3 linked regions of the Homo sapiens genome follow. The protein of the gene in region 2 purifies or fractionates together with the protein of the main gene of each other region. This does not show direct contact. Each region holds a gene or a part of one and is shown on either strand. Other genes may lie near its edges.

Region 1 (6,832 bases), on a different chromosome or scaffold from region 2:
CCAGCCTGGCAACAGAGAAAGACTCCATCCCAAAAGAGAAAGAGAGAGAGAGAGAGAGACGGAGTCTTGCTCTTTCGCCCAGGATGGGGTGCAGTGGTGCAATCTTGGCTCACTGCAGCCTCGACCTCCTGGGCTCAAGCGATCCTCCCGCCTGGGTCTCCTGTGTAGCTGGGACTACAGGCATGCGCCACCATGCCCGGTTAATTTTTGTATTTTTTTGTAGAGACAGGGTTTCGCCATGTTGCCCAGGCTAAAAATGCATAGAATCTTATGGGACCTCCATTGTCTGTGCGGTCCACCTGTTGACCAAATGTTGTTATGCAGTGCATGACTGTACTGCCTCCTCAGTGAAGCCTCCAGAATCACTTCTCCTTTATAAACGAACTCCTTCCTTTGACTTAAGGCCATTTGCATGAGTTCCAGGGTAGCTCTTTTAACGGCTTTTCTGTGTGTATCTGCCTTAGCCTGAGAGCCCTTTGAAGACAGGGCTTACATATTTCTACCTCAGTGACTGCTAGTGGACTTCAACATCATCGAAGTACAGAACTTCATATCAAAATGTGCCTTGAAGGCCCATTTTACAGATAGGGAGACTGACTTCCATTTCCATTTCTCTCCCTGATGCCCCATCCATGCAAGGCGCTGGCCTGGCTAGTCAGCGAATCAAGGTCCGCAAGAGCCAGTGTCTGGCGCCCCGGGAGGGACTCCATTTCCCGAAACGCACAGCGCGCGCCCGATGCGTGCTGGGGAATGTAGTCCTGACCCGGTGCCCCGCCCCCGCCCCACCCCCGAAGTTTCCCAGCACCAGTCGCGATCCTCAGCAGCCCAGACTTTCGTCTCCTGTTGTCACTCACTACTTCCTGTGACTCCAAGACTGCCTTCCCTTACTCTACCCCTTCCTTCAGCCCCCCAGCTCTGATTCTTTCCCGAGACTCAGTGGACGCAGGGGTCCTGCCCCAGCCCCGACCCCAGTCCTCCCCCTGGGTGTACTCGAACCGGTGATCTAAGCCCTGAGCCCAGGTCCCTGAAACCTCAGCCCCAGGCCTCCTCTAAACCCTAGCGCCTGCTGTTTCTCACAACTCACCCGCTCACTCGTTACCTGACACCGGAGCCCTGCCCTTCCCCGCCAAGGCCGCTCCCCTCCCGGACCCGGGGGTGGCGGAAACCCAGACCCCCAGCTCCCAATCCCTCTGACTCCTGCGCCCCTCAGCGACCCGGCGTCCGGTCCCTCAGCCCCTTACCCAGACTTCCCTCCCTCCGGCTCATGCTGGCCCCTGGCTGATCCCGGCTCCCTTCACGCCCCCCTTTCGAGGGGGGAGAAAGGGGAAAGGGCTGGGGGCGTGGCCCGGGCGCAGCCAATCAGAGCCCAGACCCCAAACATTTCATCCTACCCCCCCTTTTGAGACAGGATTCCTTGGCCCTGAGCTCAGCTCCTCGTCCGTGGGGCCTAGTGGGGGAAGGGGCCCGAGGGGGAAGGCAAGTTGTCTGCCGGGTGGACAGGACCTCGGGGCTGGGGGTGTCAGGGCCTGGGAGGCAGCCCAATGTTCTGCCGCGGGCTCAGGCTTGGACCTGAGGCAGCGGCTGCTTTGGGTGTAAAGCTGAGGAGACAGGAGAGGGAACTGCCGGACTGGCAGGACAGGAATGCGCAGGCCCTCTCTCTAGTCTGGGGCGCGGCTTGCGAGGGAGGCTACGATGGGGGCCGTCAGGCTTGGGGCATGTTTGTCCAGACATACATCTCCTGGCCTATCTTAGATGGCTTCCAATCTCATTGTCACACCCACCAGGAGGGAGACAGATACACTGCTCTCCTCTTCTTAGCAGGCCTAGTAACAATCACACCCCGCCCCCCACCCCCAGGAGAACAAGCTACAGAGACCTGGACAGGAAGTCACACCCATACGTCAACCCCATTAACCTGGTGTAGACGGAAAGGAAGGCACATAGGGATGATCCATACTTGGTTTCTGGCCCCCGCGAGGGGCTCGCGGTCTGTCGAGGAAGCCCATAGACAACAGAAGCTAATGGGGTTTGTGAATGAAGACGAGGAGGCCCGTGTGTGTGTGCGCTTGCGTGTGTCTGCGTGTGTGCGTGCATGCGGACGTGTGTGCGTGTGAGCATGCGTGTGTGCGAGTGGATTTGTGTGCGTGTGAGTGTGCAGGTGTGCGCGTGTGTGCATGTGCGCGTGCATGTGTGTGCGTGTGTTCGTGTGAGTGGGTGTGTGTATTGCCGTGAGCAATTGCTGGAATAAAAGAAGAAAGAGTTTAACTGGAGAGGGCACAGCAGATAGAATTGAGCCAGACAATTGGTAGGGCCCACAATCACATGTGTATTAACTGTAAATATTTATTGGGCATTTACCATGTGCTGGGCACTGTTCTAAGAGCCATATGCACATTAACTAACTCCTGTGTTATAGATGCGGAATAGAGAGAAGTGACTTGTCCAGGGTAACACAGTTAGGTGTGGCACAACTGGGATTTTACCTAAGCAGCTTGGCTCAAAAAAATGCTGTCTTAACCATGCTCCTAACCCCTTATACCCTTAACCTCTGGACATGGTCACGCCCAAATTCACAGACACAACAGCCACACCTTGAAACACACACACACACACAACAGCAGCACAAATTTTGACATGGTCTTATCTGCTGACAAGCCAGCCTCAAATAAAGTCAACAAAGACACACTCATTTTATTTAAGTAATGTACATTTTATTTAAGTCATGTGATGGATTTTCACAGAATACATATGCCCAGGGAACCAGCACCAGATTACACAACAGAACTGGATCAGCTCCCAGAAGCTCTCCCCTCGTCCCCTCCCAACCCTAAGGGCGATCACTATCTTGACTTTGGTGCACTATAAATTAGTTTTGTCTGGTTCTGAACGTAATACACCTGGAACCATCTAGTATGTACTGTTGCATTTGGCTTCTGTCACTCAAGATTTCATCATGCGACTTGTCTATGTTGCTGTGTGTAGCCGGGCATGTCAATCCCGTTGCTGTGTCTATGTGCATGGTAGTGAGTAGGGCATCATTCATTTTCCATTCTGTTGATGGGTTATTTCCAGTTTGGGGCTGTTATGAAAGGGCTCTGAACATTCCCATGCACCCTCTTGATGCTCACACCTACACATTTCTGCTGGGTGTTGACAGCCTAGGAGTGGAACTGCTGGATCACAGAGGTGGCATATGTTCGGCTTCATTAGAAAACTGCCAGTTTTCCAAAATGTCTCTACCAATTTACACTCCCCCAGAAATACAAGAGAGGTCCAGTCGCTCTACTTTCTCGCCTCCACACGGTGCGGTCTTTTTCACTTTAGCCATTCTGGTGGTGGAGACCCACTCGTATTCGCAGCGCCTGGAGCGTAATTGGCACTCAGTTAACAAGACTGTTGAATGAATGGATGACTGAGTAAGTTGGGCGGTGTAGACCAACAGCCTGGCGAGGGCGGACACACGCACGCACTCCACACACAGCGTTTCGCGGACACCCACCGCGGCTCACGCAGCGCAGGACACAGACCCTGTCGCGCACCCCGCGCCCACGTGGTCTGAACACACGGCCTCGGCCCTGCCTCGCGCGTCCGGTCGCAACTCCCGCTCTCCGTCCCCAACTCGCGCGTCCGTCCCCAACTCCCGCTCTCGGCGGCGGGCAGGGGGCGCTGAGCGTCCAGGCGCTCCAAGGGGGCGGGCCCGGGTCGGGGCGGGGCCGGCCGGGCTTCCAGGCCTGGGCTCTGGCCGCCCGCGCCACCGGGCCGCTCCGGGGACAGGCCGGGGCGGGGCGCGGCGGCAGGAAACGGGGCGGGGACTTGCGGAGGCGTTGGGGACGAGAGAGGGCGCGGCCAACTCCAGGGGGGACGGCAGGCCGAGAGCGCGGCGCCCGGGCCTGGCGCGGAGCCTGAGCCCGCCGGACGGGAGGCGGCCCCGCCGCGGGCTCGGCCCCGGCCCCAGCCCCGCCAGCATGGCCGGCCGGACTGTACGGGCCGAGACCCGGAGCCGGGCCAAGGATGACATCAAGAAGGTGATGGCGACCATCGAGAAGGTCCGGAGATGGTGAGCGCTGCTCGGGGGCCAGGGACGGGACACAGCGGGACCACCAGCACCAAAGGCGTCTACGCTGCCCTCGCCAGCTCTGGGCCCCGGGTGTTCGGTGTATCTCCACCCACTAGCTTTGCCCTGGATCCACAGGGCTCTGTCCCCGTTCGCCTGGCTACTCCTGGGGGTCTACAAAGCGTGATCCCCAGCCGTGTCCTCCCAGAGCGGGAGCCCCCTCTTGTGCCCCGCCCCCTAAAGCTTTGACACCCCTCCTGCAGGTGCGCCCCAGGATCTGCAGGGCTCTGATCCCGGGCCAGGCCCATAGCCACGCCCCCCATGTGTGCCCCAGGGGTCCGCAGAGCCAGGGCCCCAAATCATATCCTCTCTCTAGAGGCACCCACCGCCTATGCCCTGGGGTTTGCAGGACTCTCTTCCTCCATGTAACTATGCCCCATTAGCAAAACTGTTGCTATCCTCCTGTGCCTCCTCAACCTCTGCAGGTACCCCCAGATGTGTCCAGCTCCTAGGGGGGTGGGTCTCCCCTCAGGCCTCTCTGACCCAGCCCCCCACCCTCCCACAGGGAGAAGCGATGGGTGACTGTGGGCGACACTTCCCTTCGTATCTTCAAGTGGGTGCCAGTGGTGGATCCCCAGGAGGAGGTGAGCAACCCCCATTCCCACAAGGCCCTGCATCTGTGCAACCTCAGGCAAGTTCCTCCCCACGCTGACCTCTACCTCCAGCTCCCCGAGACCTCAGATGCAGCAGGACAGACGGGAACCATCATTAGCAGCTCCTCCCCTTTTGCCCTCTTTTCTGCTCCACACCCCCTGAGTTTGAGCCCTTTTGCTTCTCAGTGCCTCAGTTTCCTTAGGTGTATGGTGGGGCTTTCCAAGAGCTCTGACCCTAATCCTCTAACCCCCAGGAGCGAAGGCGGGCAGGTGGCGGGGCAGAGAGATCCCGTGGCCGGGAACGTCGGGGCAGGGGCGCCAGTCCCCGAGGGGGTGGCCCTCTCATCCTGCTGGATCTTAATGGTAGGTAGGGATCCTGAAACGCGGGGGGCTGTGGGGACTGAAGGAGTGTACTAGGGATCTCAGGCCAACCATCTCGGCTCTTGCTCCCGCAGATGAGAACAGCAACCAGAGTTTCCATTCGGAAGGTTCCCTGCAAAAGGGCACAGAGCCCAGTCCTGGGGGCACCCCCCAGCCCAGCCGCCCTGTGTCACCTGCCGGACCCCCAGAAGGGGTCCCTGAGGAGGCTCAGCCCCCACGGCTGGGCCAAGAGAGAGGTAGGACCAGGTACCTCCCAGGAGCTCTCTCCTCTAAGTCCTGTCTTCTCCAGAGTCTAACCTACCAGCTCATCCCTATACCTGCTCCCCGTCTTGTGCACCCTCCTCAAGGCGCCTTCCGACTCCTGCAGAATCTCCCTGTAGCTACAGTCTCATTCCTCTGGTCTCTTAGAATCTATACAGACATATCACTGTCTGAGATTTTCATGTAAATTAATTTTTTACTAGTTTATCTTTCTCCTCACTCTCATGTCAGTTTCCTGAATGTTGGGCCCATATTGATCCTTTTTTTTTTTTTTTTTTTTTTTTTTTTTTGAGAAAGGGTCTCGCTCTGTCACCCAGGCTGGAGTAGTATAGTGGTGTGATCATAGCTCACTGCAGCCTTGAACTTCCTGGGCTCAAGCGATCCTCCCGCCTCAGCCTCCCAAGTAGCTGGGACCACAGGCATATGCCACCACACCTGGCTAATTTTTGTATTTTTTGTAGAGATAAGGTTTCACCATGTTGCCCAGGCTGGTCTCAAACTCACTTGCTCAAGCAGTCCTCCACCTTCAGCCTCCCAAAGTGCTGGGATTACGGGTGTGAGCCATCACACCCACACCCGGCCCTCCCCCCCCTTTTTTTTAGAGACAAGGTCTCTGTCACCCACGCTGGAGTACTCTGGTGCAATCATAGCTCACTGCAGCCTCAAACTCCTGGGCTCAAGGGATCCTCTGGCCCCAGCCTCCCAAATAGCTGGGACTCAGGTGTGTGCCACCATGCCCAGCCAATTCTTAAATTTTTTGTAGAGGTAGGGTCTCGCTATGTTGCCAAGGTTGGTTTTGAACTCGTGGCCTGAAATGATCCTCCTGTCTCAGCCTCCCAAGGTGCTGGGATTATAGGCGTGAGTCACTGTGCCTGGCCCTATGTGATCTTGTTCACTACTGTATCCTCAGAATAATATGGGACACATAGTAGGTGCTCAGTAAATATCTGTTGAGTGAATAAATAATAGTGATAGTCATAGGGGTGATTAACAATAATAGGAATAACAACAGCTAGTATTTATTGAGCTCTTACTGTGTGCTAGGTGCCCTGGTAAACACTTTACGTGGTTGGGTTTTTTTCTTTTCTCTTTTTCTTTTCTTTGAGAGAGTTTCGCTCTTGCCAAGGCTGGAGTGCGACGGCACAATCTTGGCTCACTGCAACCTTCACCTCCTGGGTTCAGGCAATTCTCCTGCCTCAGCCTCCTGGGTAGCTGGGAATATAGGCATGAACCACCATGCTCGGCTGGTTTTGTATTTTTAGTAGAGTTGGGGTTTCGCCATGTTGGCCAGGCTGGTCTCAAACGCCTGACCTCAGGTGATCTGCCCGCCTTGGCCTCCCAAAGTGCTGGGATTACGAGCCACCACGCCCAGCCTTTTTTTTTTTTTTTTTTGAGATGAAGTCTTGCTCTGTTGCCCAGGCTGGAGAGCAGTGGTACGATCTTGGCTCACTGCAAACTCTGCCTCCCAGGTTCAAGCGATTCT
Region 2 (7,083 bases):
GAGATTACAAGCGCACAGCACCACGCCCAGCTAATTTCTCTATTTTTAGTAAAGATGGGGTTTTGCCATGCTGCCCAGGCTGGTCTTGAACCCCTGGGCTCAAGAGATCCCAAAGTGCTGGGATTACAGATGCGAGCCACAGTGCACAGCCAGTTTTTATATTTTTAAGGGGATTTTCTTCAGGCTAGATGCAGTGGTTCACACCTGTAATCCCAGCACTTTGGGAAGCTGAGGTGGGTGGATCACTTGAGCCCAGGAGTTCGAGACCAGCCTGGGCACCATGGCAAAACCCCGTCTCTACTAAAAATACAAAAATTAGCCGGGTGTGGTGGCATGCCTGTAGTCCCAGGTACTCAGGAGGCTGAGGTGGGAGGATTACCAGATTACCTGAGCCCGGGGAAGCAGAGGTTGCAGTGAGCTGAGATCATGCCACTCCACTCCAACATGGGCAACAGAACAAGACACTGTCTCAAAAAAAAAAAAAAAAAAGAAAGAAAGAAAAAGAAAAAGAGAAAAGAAAAGAAAACAAAACAGCTTGCAAGCTATTTAAGCTGGCTGTGGCTGGATGTGGTCCATAGGTTTTAGCTTGTAGCTTGCTGACCCTGACCTAGAACATCTGATACTTCTAGGGGTTGCCCCTCAGCTGCCTTAACACTACAGTGAGGACACTCGGGCCTGCAGCTCTCCACTACCTCGATGTCCCACAGAACTTTAATAGGAAAGCCATTCTGTAACATAGATCATCTGTTTGATGGTTTAAAAAAACAAAACAAAACAAAACATAAACATGCGACTTCTCCCCAAAGCAGATTCATAAACTGGGCCTGACAGAAGCTGAGTACTCCCCTACAGCTGCTAAAGGACTCTTAGACATTGTCAGGGGCCTCATTCTCTAGAGGGGTGACAGCAGTTTGACCGATATGTTACAAGTCAGCTTACATCACACAATGAAACACTTTCTCTTGCCTGTAATGCTGGCCCACATCCTTTGTGCACAGTAACAGCTCCTGGGCATTTGTGTTCTGAGTAAGCTACTGAATTTCTGTTGGCTTTTTTTTTTTTTTCTTTGAGATGGAGTCTCGCTCTGTCGCCCAGGCTGGAGTGCAGTGGTGCGATCTCGGTTCACTGCAAGCTCCGCTTCCCGGGTTCACGCCATTCTCCTGCCTCAGCCTCCTGAGTAGCTGGGACTACAGGCGCCCGCCACCACAGCCGGCTAATTTTTTTGTATTTTTAGTAGAGACGGGGTTTCACCGTGTTAGCCAGGATGGTCTCCATGTCCTGACCTCGTGATCCGCCCACCTCGGCCTCCCAAAGTGCTGGGATTACAGGCTTGAGCCACCGCGCCCAGCTGCTACTCAATTTCTGTACAGGAGGTGTTTATGTACAGAAATCCAGCTGGAAGGGGACTTGTGGAGATGCAACCAATTCTTGGTGCCACCACTGGTTTCAGTGAATAGCTTTAATAAATTTGGACCATTATTACAGTAAGTTATCGGAGAAGCAGACTGACCCATTCAGGCTCCAAAGTCAAGTCCCTTCCCAGTTCAGAAGGGGAAGGGATAGGAAATAAATGCTCAAATCTATCAAATTTCAAGAGTTGACTGCAGAAGTTTCACATCAGATAATCTACCACTTGAGTTTTCTGGACTGGTTGGAAGAAAATAAATCATTCCTTCTGGGTGCCTGATCTCGGCTCAGCATCTGCTTTCTTCTGGGCTGTTGATTTTCTGTTGTAAATGTAGCTGATAATGTGCAAACACTAAACCCTTTAAGTTGAAATGTTAGGAAGGCATTCTAAACTGAGCCAAGGCAAGGTGCTTTACTCCCTAATTTGGAAGAATATGTAAGTGATAACATAAAGAACATAGAACTCAGTATTTTCCAAGTAACTAATAAAGTAATTGTTCTGAGTAAAAGATCTGGGCAACTTACCTTCAGGGGGCTCAGACATGGACGGGGTGAGACAGTACATGTGGTAGCCACGATCGCAGTCATCACAGAAGAGCAACTGGTCCTGAAGTAGGCAAGAGGGAAGAGGATGGGGACTGAATAACTGATGTGCCTCAGGCCACTACAGGACACTGCTATTTCCAAGAGGGGTAGGTAGCAGGTAAGAACAGATGTGAGAATCTTATGTGGGAAACCATGCTGCCCCTCTCCACCGCAGATCCAGTCACTGTCATTTCTCACTTGGGTCCTTTCAGAGCTCCTAATTGATCAAATCACCTCCACTTTTTTTTTTTTTTTTTTTTCCCTAAAGCCCAAGCTCTATGGTATATTTTTTTGAGACAGGGTATTGCTGTCACTCAGGCTGGAGTGCAGTGGTGCAATCACGGCTCACTGCAGCCTTGACCTCCTGGGCCCAAGTGATCCTCCTACCTCAGCCTCTCAAGTAGCTGGGACTATAGGCACACACCACCACACCTAGCTAATTTTTCAATGTTTTTGGAGAGACAAGATCTCCTTACGTTGCCCAGGCTGGTCCTGAAATCCCAGGCTCAAGCAATCCTCCCACCTCAGCCTCCCAAAGTGCTTGGATTACAGGTGTGAGACGCCGTGCCCAGTGACTATTTCTTTTTGAGACAAGGTCTTGCTTTGTTGCCCAGGCTAGAGTGCGGTGGTGTGATCATGGCTCACTGCAGCCTCAAACTCCTGGGTTCAAGCAATCCTCCCACCTCAGCCTGCCAAGTAGCTGGGACTAACGTGTGTGCCACCACACCTGGCTAAGTGTTTATTTTTTTTGTGGAGACAGGATCTCCCTATGTTGCTCAGGCTGGTCTTGAATTCCTGGGCTCAAGTGATCCTCCCGCCTCAGCCTCTCAAGTGTTAGGATTACAGGCATGAGCCTCCATCCTTGTCCCTACAGTCTACCCTCCACACGGCACCCAAAGTCATCTTTTTAAAATATAAGACAAGGGCCAAGCACGGTGGCTCACACCTGTAATACCAGCATTTTGGGAGGCTGAGGCAGGTGGATCACCTGAGGTCAGGAGTTGAAAACTAGCTTGGCCAACATGGTGAAACCCCGTCTCTACTAAAAATTAGCCAGGCGTGGTGGCGGGCGCCTGTAATCCCAGCTACCTGGGAGGCTGAGACAGGAGAATTGCTTGAACCTGGGAGGCAGAGGTTGCAGTGAGCCGAGATTGCGCCATTGTACTCCAGCCTGGATGACAAGAGTAAAACTCCATCTTGAAATAAATAAATAAATATAAAATAAAATATAAGACAAGGCCAGACATGGTGGGTTCATGCCTGTAATCCCAGCACTTTGAGAGGCCAAGGTGGGAGGACTGCTTGAGCTCAGGAGTTTGAGACCAGCTCAGCAATATGGCAAGACCCTGTCTCTACCAAAAATATAAAAAAGTAGCCAGACATGGTGGTGTGCATCTGTGGTCCCAGCTACCCGGGAGGCTGAGGTGGGAGGATTGTACTGCTTGAGCCTGAAGGGAAAGGTTTTAGTGAGCTAAGATCGCGTCACTGCACTCCAGCCTGGATGACAGAGAGACTCTGTCTCAAAATAAATAAATAAATACATAAAGAATAAATAAATAGCTGGGTGCAGTGGCTCACGCCTATAATCCCAGCACTTTGGGAGGCTGAGGCAGGCGGATCACCGGAGGTCAGGAGTTCGATACCAGCCTGGCAAACATGGAGAAACCCCATCTCTACTAAAAATACAAAATTAGCCGGGTGTGGTGGCACGTGTCTGTAATCCCAGCTACTTGGGAGGCTGAGGCAGGAGAATCACTTGAACCCAGGAGGCAGAGGTTGCAGTGAGCTGAGATTGTGCCACTGTACTCCAGCCTGGGCGACAGAGCAAGACTCCATCTCAAAAAAAAAAAGTAAATAAATAAATACATAAATAACCATGTCACTTCCCGAGTAAAACCCTTCAACAGTGTCCTGTTGTACCTAGAATAAAACCCGAGGCCCCAGAGATCTGGCAGTGCTTGCCTCTCTCATCTCATTGCCCACCATACTCTCCCATGCCCTGTCATCTGGCTTGTCCAACATAAGGCCTTGGCGCTGGCTGCTCCTTTCCTGGGATTCCTCTACCTCCAAATCTTGACTGGCTCCTTGGTATCACCAAAATTTCAACACCAGCATCACCCTCCCAGAAGAGCCATACCTGACCATCAAAATAAATCACTTATGCAATTATTCTCTGCCACAGTACTGATTTCGTTTTTTTCATGGCACATTATACAAATCTCATTTACATCCTTGCTTATTGTTGTTCCTGTAAGAATGTAAATCTCATGAGGCAGGGACCTTGTTTGTCTTTAGCATCTTTAGTGACTAGAACAGTGTCTGACATAAAATCAGCACTCAATATATATCTGGCAACAAATCAGAGTTCTGACTGAGATGCTAGGGAGGGGCGTGTGGCATGTGGGAGGGATCCTGCTCCCTTTTTAAAAGAAAGCTCACTTTAGAGGGAACTGTGCAAACAGCAGTAAAAGCCCAGAAGGAGCCATGCTGAGGAGGGGGCGGGGATACACACGTCATTCTCGGAGGTGCCGCAGATATTGCAACATTTGCACTCGATGCACTGCCAGCGGTATGTCTTCACTGCCGCCATCATCACGGGGGTAAATTGGAGGCAAGATGGATGCCCTGTAGTGGGGGAAGTGAGTGAGACAGACAGTCGGAAATGCGGGGGGAAGAGAGGAGCTCCTGCCTGTGGCTACATCTTCTCTTGGTTAGGAAAAGCGAGGTGGGCTGGTTATGACAGCCCTAGAGGCCAGCAAGCCAAGAGCCCCTTGGGGACTGGGCAAAGCAGCAGCCTTCACGGGAAGCAGTACCTGAGCGGCCACAGTCAGAACAGGACACCAGCTCCTCGGGTTGTCCCGTCTTCTTGTTAATCTTTGAGTCCCCCAGGCAGAAGTCACAGTAGTTGTTGGGCAAGGCCAATCCATCAGGACCCTTTTTGGCTACAGAGAGAAAGAGTTTTGATGACACCCATGGGGGTCCCTGAGCCACTCAACACCCATGCAAGGAGTGGTTTTCATAACCAGGCCAACTTCTGCTTGCCCACCACTTCTGACACCTCAGCTTACATTTCTGCTCCTCAGACCTCTGGGAAACAGGAGTGGGTGGTTGAGAGTCTTCCTTGTCCTCGCCCTCCTCCTCAGCCAAGTGGGAGTGGGCATAGTGGTAACTGAGGCCTGGTCGGTTCTTGTAACGTTTTCCACAAACTGAGTGGGAAGAAGATTGCAGAGAAAGGTGTTAGGATACAAGAGTGCCATGTCCCCATCCCTGCAAGCTGTGGGGGCTCCACCTGAGGCAGAGGGCAACCATCCCTTCCCCTAGCAGCTCCACTCTGGGACAGGCCTTGAGTGACGGCCACTTCCCCTCAGCCAGGAGCATCAGGCCGTGGGGCTCTCTAGCTTCTGGGGCTCTTTTCCCTCCTGAACTCCAACCCCATGGCCACCACTGCTCTTCCATGTTGACTTTTGGGGGGCTTAGCCCTTGCCCCATCACCAGTTAGTTGCTCTGGGATATACTAACAGTCTGGGACGCTCCAGGTCAGGAAAGGGAAGGATATTCCTATATCTTTGGGGTGGCAGGAAGGGGGAAAAGTGGATAAGACTCCAAACTTTTTTACCCCTCAGTAAATGTGGGAGGCTCATGCTACCCCACACACCATGGAGCCCATCTCCCCTGAATGTGGGTAAACAAGCAGGGGATGGGTTTCTTGGGGATAGCCTATCAATGAAGCCAGTTGGGCAGTTGGTCCCCAAAGAAATTCAAGCACACTCCCATGTAATTGCCCTGTCCAGGCCTGCCAATCAGCAAGGAAAGCAGATCCCCATGAGGCATTTTGTCATCTTGAGAAGTAATACCAAGAAGGGCAAGGGGGCCAGCAGGAAAGGAGTGGGGAGAGAGGATGGCAGGAGGAGGTGGTGGGGCAGTGGGGAACATGAGCTGACCACCAGCTGCCTGGTCTGGGGAGGGAGCGGAAGGGTCTGATTGTAATGGGCTCCTGATAATGCTTCTGAAGCCACCCCATGCACTGGGCCGAGCAGCTCTAGGAGCAGGTTTGTGGGAAACAAGCAGTGGTAAAGGCAGCCTTCAGGACTTTGAGGAGTAGAGCACAGCAGAAATTCCACTGCTCCTACCCCCATGCCATTCCAGAGATTTTAAAGCTAGCATCCCAGGAAATGAGAAAGGCAGGAGGAACAAGGGAAGAGGGAAAAAGGGAAAGGAAAACCACAAGTCTGAAAAGTTGAGAGAGCTACCTCTCTGGGGCGCTTTCGAGGTATGCTTTTGTTTGAAACTATCTGAAAGACAGAAAGAAAAGTCATGAGAAGAAGGCCTTGATACACTTGAGACAGGAGCAGCAGCAGCAGGAAAGCAGAGCAAACGAGAGAGAAACCCCAGCGGCGATGGTGCTCCCAGGGTGGAGGGACAGAAGTGGGGCAAGGCAGACAGAAAGAAAAAGAGAACAGACGTTGAAAAACTCAGTGTCAGACCCCTGGGGCCCTGGCTTAACTGAGGCCAGGAGACCTGCAGGCCATCTGTTGAGAGGCCAACCCTGCCTGCTGTGGCCCCCACAAGCAACCCTACCCCAGAGGATGGCAGAAATCTTTCCCAGAGCATGCAGGTCCCACCCGTCATATAGCAGGGACCCAGGCCTCCCAGGGGTCTCAGACGGAAGCAGTCAGCAGGCAGGACAAGAGCCCAGGTTTGTTTTAATACTCTGGGCAAAAACACAACCCTCCCTCCTCTCATATCCAGAGCAGGAGCTGGGTCCAAGGCAAGGTCTACCCACCCACTTGTGAGGCACTCACTGTCACAGGCATAGGGCTTATCCCGGTCCTCCAGGATGGAAGCATCCAGCTTCTTACGGGCACTGCCCACACCCTTACCCTGCCAAGAAGAGCAAAGAGACACCCTTATTTTGGTAGCTGGGCCTGAGGAGTTAGACTCTTTTGGAAGTGGCCGCTAATCTCACTTGAAATAAAATAAGGAATTCCCTAGGCCACCCTGTCCCAAGATGCAGGCAGCACGCTGGCCCCTCACCTTGGATTTCCCCTTTCCCCGACGCTTGGGAGTATCTTCTTCATAGTCTTCATCATC
Region 3 (5,137 bases), on a different chromosome or scaffold from region 2:
TGGGAGGCTAAGGTGGGAAGATCACTAGAGTCCAGGAGGTTGAGGCTGCAGTGAGTTATGATCGTGCCACTGTACTCTAGCCTGGGTGACAGAGCAAAACCCCACCTCTAAAAAAATAAACTTAATTTTTTGAGATGGAGTCTCGCTATCACCCAGGCTGGAGTGCAGTGGCGTGATCTCAGCTCACTGCAACTTCTGCCTCCTGAGCAGCTGGGATTACAGGTGCGTGCCACCATGCCTGGCTAATTTTTTGTTTTTACTAGAGACAGGGTTTCACCATGTTGGCCAGGCTGGTCTTAAACTCCTGACCTCAGGTATCAGCCCACCTCGGCCTCCCAAAATGCAAGTGCTGGGATTACAGGCGTGAGCCACTGCACCCAGCCTAAACTATTCTTAATTGAATGTGGGGGAATTACTCCATGGTAAGGACCCAGGGAACCTATGTAAGACTGGTTGATCTTGCATGTCCTCCAATATTCTAAAAATAATTCACACACAAGTTTATAAACCAGTCTTTAGTTTCGATAAAGGATTAACCTCCCCCAACATCCTTGAGAAAGTATAGGAATCTGGTGAGACCCAGCTGGCTTTGGCTCTCTTTATTAGAGGCACACCTTCGTGAAGAGCAGGGCGTTCATCTCATGGCAGACACAGAATCCTCTTCTTTTGCTTCACTCGATTTATAAGCATCCTGAAAACAATCACTTCTTTTTTTCTGCACAGGGTTTATATCTGTGAGTACCCAAAAGCTGTCCCCCAAGGTTCACAGAATCTTCTGCCCTCAAGGCCTGCCTCCAACTTGGGACTGTCTAAACTGCATCCTGACAAACATTATCCCATTCACCAAGCAAAGCTATTTCTCACACCTGGAGGTGCCAGGATGTTGGCCATCATTTTTGGAGAACTTCCACTCATTTTCACTTTGACCATGCAAATGAACAGTGGGTGAGGTACCCTCAAAATGTATGTTCCTTACACATCATGAAGGTGGGCAGTCGGGAAGGAAGCCCGAGTCACAGAATTTTAACTGCTGATCAAACCAAGACCAGGTGGGGCCAAATGTTTAGGTTCTTCATAGGATATATGAAGAAACTGGTGTATGAATGCAGAGAATGGGACTAGAATCCAGAAATGGTGTTCCATTTATTCACTGAAAAAGAGAGAGATTAGGCCTTCTTCATTCATTTTCTCCATTCTTGCCAAACTCCCTCCCCTCATTTTTTCCAAAATAACAACACACTGAGAAACATGTTTGTACAAAAACCACATATTATTCCCCCCCCTCACAAAATCAGGTGGCTGAATTACAGGAATAAAACCAGATCAAAGACATGAAAAGAAAAAGCCACCACTTATACTGAAATATAACAGTGTTAAGAATTCAGGTATTTTGTAGAATTATTACTATAGTAAAAATATTTCCACCTGGATCTTTTAAATTTGAAAGTGATCACATTAAAGACCTGAGGTTACAAGGGACCACAGTATGAACCAGAATTCCATTTTCCTTCTCGGACTCCAGGGGAAAAAAGAAGTATTTGGAATGAGTTTCCTTTGGGAAAGACTGGCAGGAAGTAGGTAAAACCCTGGCCATTGTCAAAAGGCACTGGGGTCTTTCTGGAGCCAAATGCATTGGAACTAAGCTCCAGTAGGAATAAACTCATTCTCATTTCCACTCCCAAGAGTCCAGAACAAAAACAAAAGGACCAAGGTCTCCTCGGTTCCCGTATTCCAGTACTCTGATGGTGACCAGGGACACCTGGTTAGAGGCAAACCTGAGGGTTTGAAAGGCAAATCTCAATTGTGGTTTTATTTTTTTGCTTTCTGATATTAAGGAAAAAAGTTCTCAAGTGTTTTATAAACACCTCCCTATACCCTCTCATATGTAAAGCTTTAGAAAATATATAGAAAAAGATATCCAAAAGATGTCCACCTTGCATTCTAAATAATGAAACTGCCACTTGAGAATGTGAAGTGAGAAAGCCAGGCGCTTTGGAAACCAAGCTCTACCAAAAACACCCTTTCCCCACACATGGAAGGACAGAAGGGAGGGAAGGACAAGAGGAAAAAACCGGGAACTCTCAAGTCACTTATCAGCAGGGGTAAATACGAGCTCAAATTAAGGCATTTTTGTGGCTTGTCCTCTGGAATGGCATTCTACCCTCCCAGCCTGAGCACCCCAAACCTCAAAGCATGATGCTCTGACTGCCAAGTGAGTTCCTTGTTACCCTCAGCATCTCTTTGAAAACCCTGTGATAGATGGAATGTGAGATCTCAGAAATGGAAGGGAGAAGGTATAAGGAGCTAATATCCTGCTTCACTTTTCCCGTCCCATCCTAACCTTAAAAGTACCGGTTGACGAAATTCCACTCCCTGGCTACTGTAACAAGAGGTAGTTTGGGGACTTGTACCCCCAGCCATCCTAACCAAGTTTCATGAGCTAAAATATTTAGCACTATCTACTTTTTTTTTTCTTTTAAAGGGTTTTTTAAAGAGGGAGAAAAAAATGCACACAAAGCAGTGAATAGTAGGCTAGACTCATTGGGGGTAATTACCCTAGACTCCTAACTTTCCAGGCTAGTTGAGGAAACTAAGGAATGCCTCCCAATATTCCAACCCTCAAAGCTCACACTGCCCCCAGAAAAACAAAACACTCACCCCCAATCCAATGAATCATCTGCATAGAAAACCAGAGCCAGCAGGCCTAGGGAAGGAGCGGATGTTTGTGCCCTCCTCTAGCACATACTAGTTCAGTGGTATGTTCTGCCAGGCAGTGTGGAGGCCCTCAGAGGCCTCACTAGGGAATAAAATCACTGAGGTTCTCCTTCCACATCTCGTTTAATTTTCACAAATTTGTGTGTGGCAAAAGTCTCAAACTTTACCATCAGCACCATTCTTAGCTCAGAAAAGCAGAAATAAGGTCACTTATAATGCCTTAAGGTTTGTCCCCTGTGGCTATTCCCCCCCTTCTGCCCATCATTATTTTTTGGTTCCTATTAACTTAGGATGCTCTCCTTTAAAACAATAATAACAGAAAGATAAAAAGATAATGATTATATAGCATTATCCATAGAAGCATAAGACAAAGCAAAAAACTGCAAGAGAGCAAAAATGGTAAAGACATAGCATGCTAAAGTTGACAGGACCTGCAGAGAAACTGTCAGCTTACTCCCACACCAGGACAGGGGAGATGCAGGTTATTTTAAGGATGACCAGGGCACACTGTCACTACAGGTTTCCCCTTGAGTGTTGGCTGAGGACCCAACACAAAAAGTGTCAGAGAGAGGGGTGGTAAGAGGAGTGGGGAGGCACGGGACACGTGCTTGGAGCTGTGAGAAGAAAAATCCTGAAAGAAACCCAAGAAAGTTGAGGAACACAAGTCTTGTCATCCCCACTCCAGCTCATGGTGGTGGGCGTGGAGGTTCCCTGCATCTTCCAGGCTAAGGAGCAGCTGAGGCTGGCGGGCCAGGAGCAGGAGGCGGAGGGACCCCATCTGCAGGTGGTGGTGGCGGTGGCTGCTGCTGTGGTGGAGGGGGATCTGCAAACATATCCAAGAGTAACTCGTTATTGCTGGAAATACAAGAGACTCAGGAAAGAGCCTATTCAGTGAAAAAAAGACACAGAAGTCCTTTCCTTAGTGGCAGGCAACCAATGCACCCTGTGAGGCATTGATTCCACTGTGGTCTATGCAAGTCAATTCCTTCTGAACCTCTAGGGCACTGCTCAAGTTGCTTAGCCTAACCCTAGTGGCTGGGGAGTGGGAGGTGTCTGAATTTCCCCCACCCTCCTTCCAGGCCAACTCCTTCCAAGAATCGCTCCAGGCCCTTTCAGAAGTTAATTTTGATTGCATTGTATTTCAAGGGTTCTAATTTTATTTCTTCAGTTAAAAAATAAGCTCCTTCCTGGGACAGTTCTATGTCTTGTTTTTCTTCCCGCCCCCCCCCCGCCCCCACAGTCCCTAGCCTAGCTGGGCACAAAATAGATTATCAATAAATTCTTGCTATATAAATGTCTCCACCAGGGCCAGAGAGCTTCACTTGAGGCAGTTGCTGACAAACTGGATAGTCCAGGGAGGCCTCCACAGCTCCTGAACTGCAGTCCTTCGATTTTTGGCCCAAACTAGGTCATGTCCTGAAGGGAACAATTAGTATGAGTGTCTGGGACTCTTTCCTATTTCAACTTTACCTGCTTTAGTGTACAAAAGAACCCGAGAGATCATTTAATCCGGGTTTTAAAAACCCCTAGATCTTGTCAGAATTGAAAACATATGAAATAAAGTGCAGCATTGCTCACCAATCAATTCACCCAACTCTATGCCCAAGAGGTTTCTACCAAACCCTTAAGACTCTTGAAAGCATTCTGAAGCTCACTGATCTAATCCCTTGTGTCATCTTTCAGTGGAGGAAATGAAGGGCTGAAGTGGAGAAGCAACTCATCCAGTGTGGCCTACCTAGTATCCTAGAACCAATTCACATGGTTCAGAATTCCAGAGCACTGACTTATGGCAGGAACCAGGCAGCAGGTGGGAAGGTTCCACCTGAAACCCTCCACATTCTCAAGGAGCTCTACTGAGGTCCCTTTGGGAAGGAATCCTGAAGTACAAAACATGGGTGACCAGCAGGACATGACAGTGGTAAATTGGTAAAGACCAGTGATACTACCTCTGCAATAGGGATGGAAAACTGGTCAACTCTCTTGATAGGCGAGCTCATTTATGTATGGTCCACAGGGTGGCTTGGCAAACATTTTCTTGCCAAGAAAAAGAGGTACCTACTGTACTACACAACCACTGACCACTAGCTTAAGGGAGATAATTTTAAAAAGTTGTTGTGATCTTATATACCTAGATAAATTAGTGTCTTTCTTCTGTGCACCTACTTTGTCCCAGACTCTGGGGGCCAGAGAAGAGTCAGACATGTCTCTGTCCATGAAGCCTCCCAGAGTATTAGAGTGTACTTAAGGCACATCACAGTCTCATGTAACCTTTGGTAAGTTCTATATGCCTTCATTTGCTAAGTTCTATCCAAGTTTTCATTTCTTGTTTTCTCAACTAAAGCTCCTACAGAGCAAGAATTCTTATGCTTCCTATCTCTCTGAACTATAAATAGTAGCTAAACTTTTGGCCACACGTGAACTT

The links.
Region 1: the proteins of DPF2 (region 2) and BCL7C purify together in Homo sapiens (affinity purification with mass spectrometry; 6 studies listed by BioGRID and IntAct, with this or other methods). This does not show direct contact.
Region 3: the proteins of DPF2 (region 2) and SMARCC1 purify together in Homo sapiens (affinity purification with mass spectrometry; 11 studies listed by BioGRID and IntAct, with this or other methods). This does not show direct contact.

What each region holds. Positions count from the first base shown.
Region 1 is NC_000016.10:30,891,078-30,897,909, reverse strand, and holds the start of BCL7C (B-cell CLL/lymphoma 7 protein family member C), read left to right. Parts: upstream 1-3,832; 5' UTR 3,833-3,965; coding exon 3,966-4,057; intron 4,058-4,619; coding exon 4,620-4,698; intron 4,699-4,961; coding exon 4,962-5,070; intron 5,071-5,162; coding exon 5,163-5,324; coding exon of another isoform or gene 5,325-5,334; intron 5,335-6,832. Other genes in the region: CTF1 (cardiotrophin-1), read right to left, coding at 1,916-2,006. UniProt on the Homo sapiens protein: May play an anti-apoptotic role.
Region 2 is NC_000011.10:65,343,781-65,350,863, reverse strand, and holds part of DPF2 (zinc finger protein ubi-d4), read right to left. Parts: coding exon 7,027-7,083; intron 6,874-7,026; coding exon 6,795-6,873; intron 6,285-6,794; coding exon of another isoform or gene 6,243-6,284; intron 5,199-6,242; coding exon 5,061-5,198; intron 4,935-5,060; coding exon 4,806-4,934; intron 4,618-4,805; coding exon 4,505-4,617; intron 2,015-4,504; coding exon 1,933-2,014; intron 1-1,932. UniProt on the Homo sapiens protein: Plays an active role in transcriptional regulation by binding modified histones H3 and H4. Is a negative regulator of myeloid differentiation of hematopoietic progenitor cells. Might also have a role in the development and maturation of lymphoid cells.
Region 3 is NC_000003.12:47,584,769-47,589,905, forward strand, and holds the end of SMARCC1 (SWI/SNF complex subunit SMARCC1), read right to left. Parts: intron 3,539-5,137; coding exon 3,441-3,538; 3' UTR 501-3,440; downstream 1-500. UniProt on the Homo sapiens protein: Involved in transcriptional activation and repression of select genes by chromatin remodeling (alteration of DNA-nucleosome topology).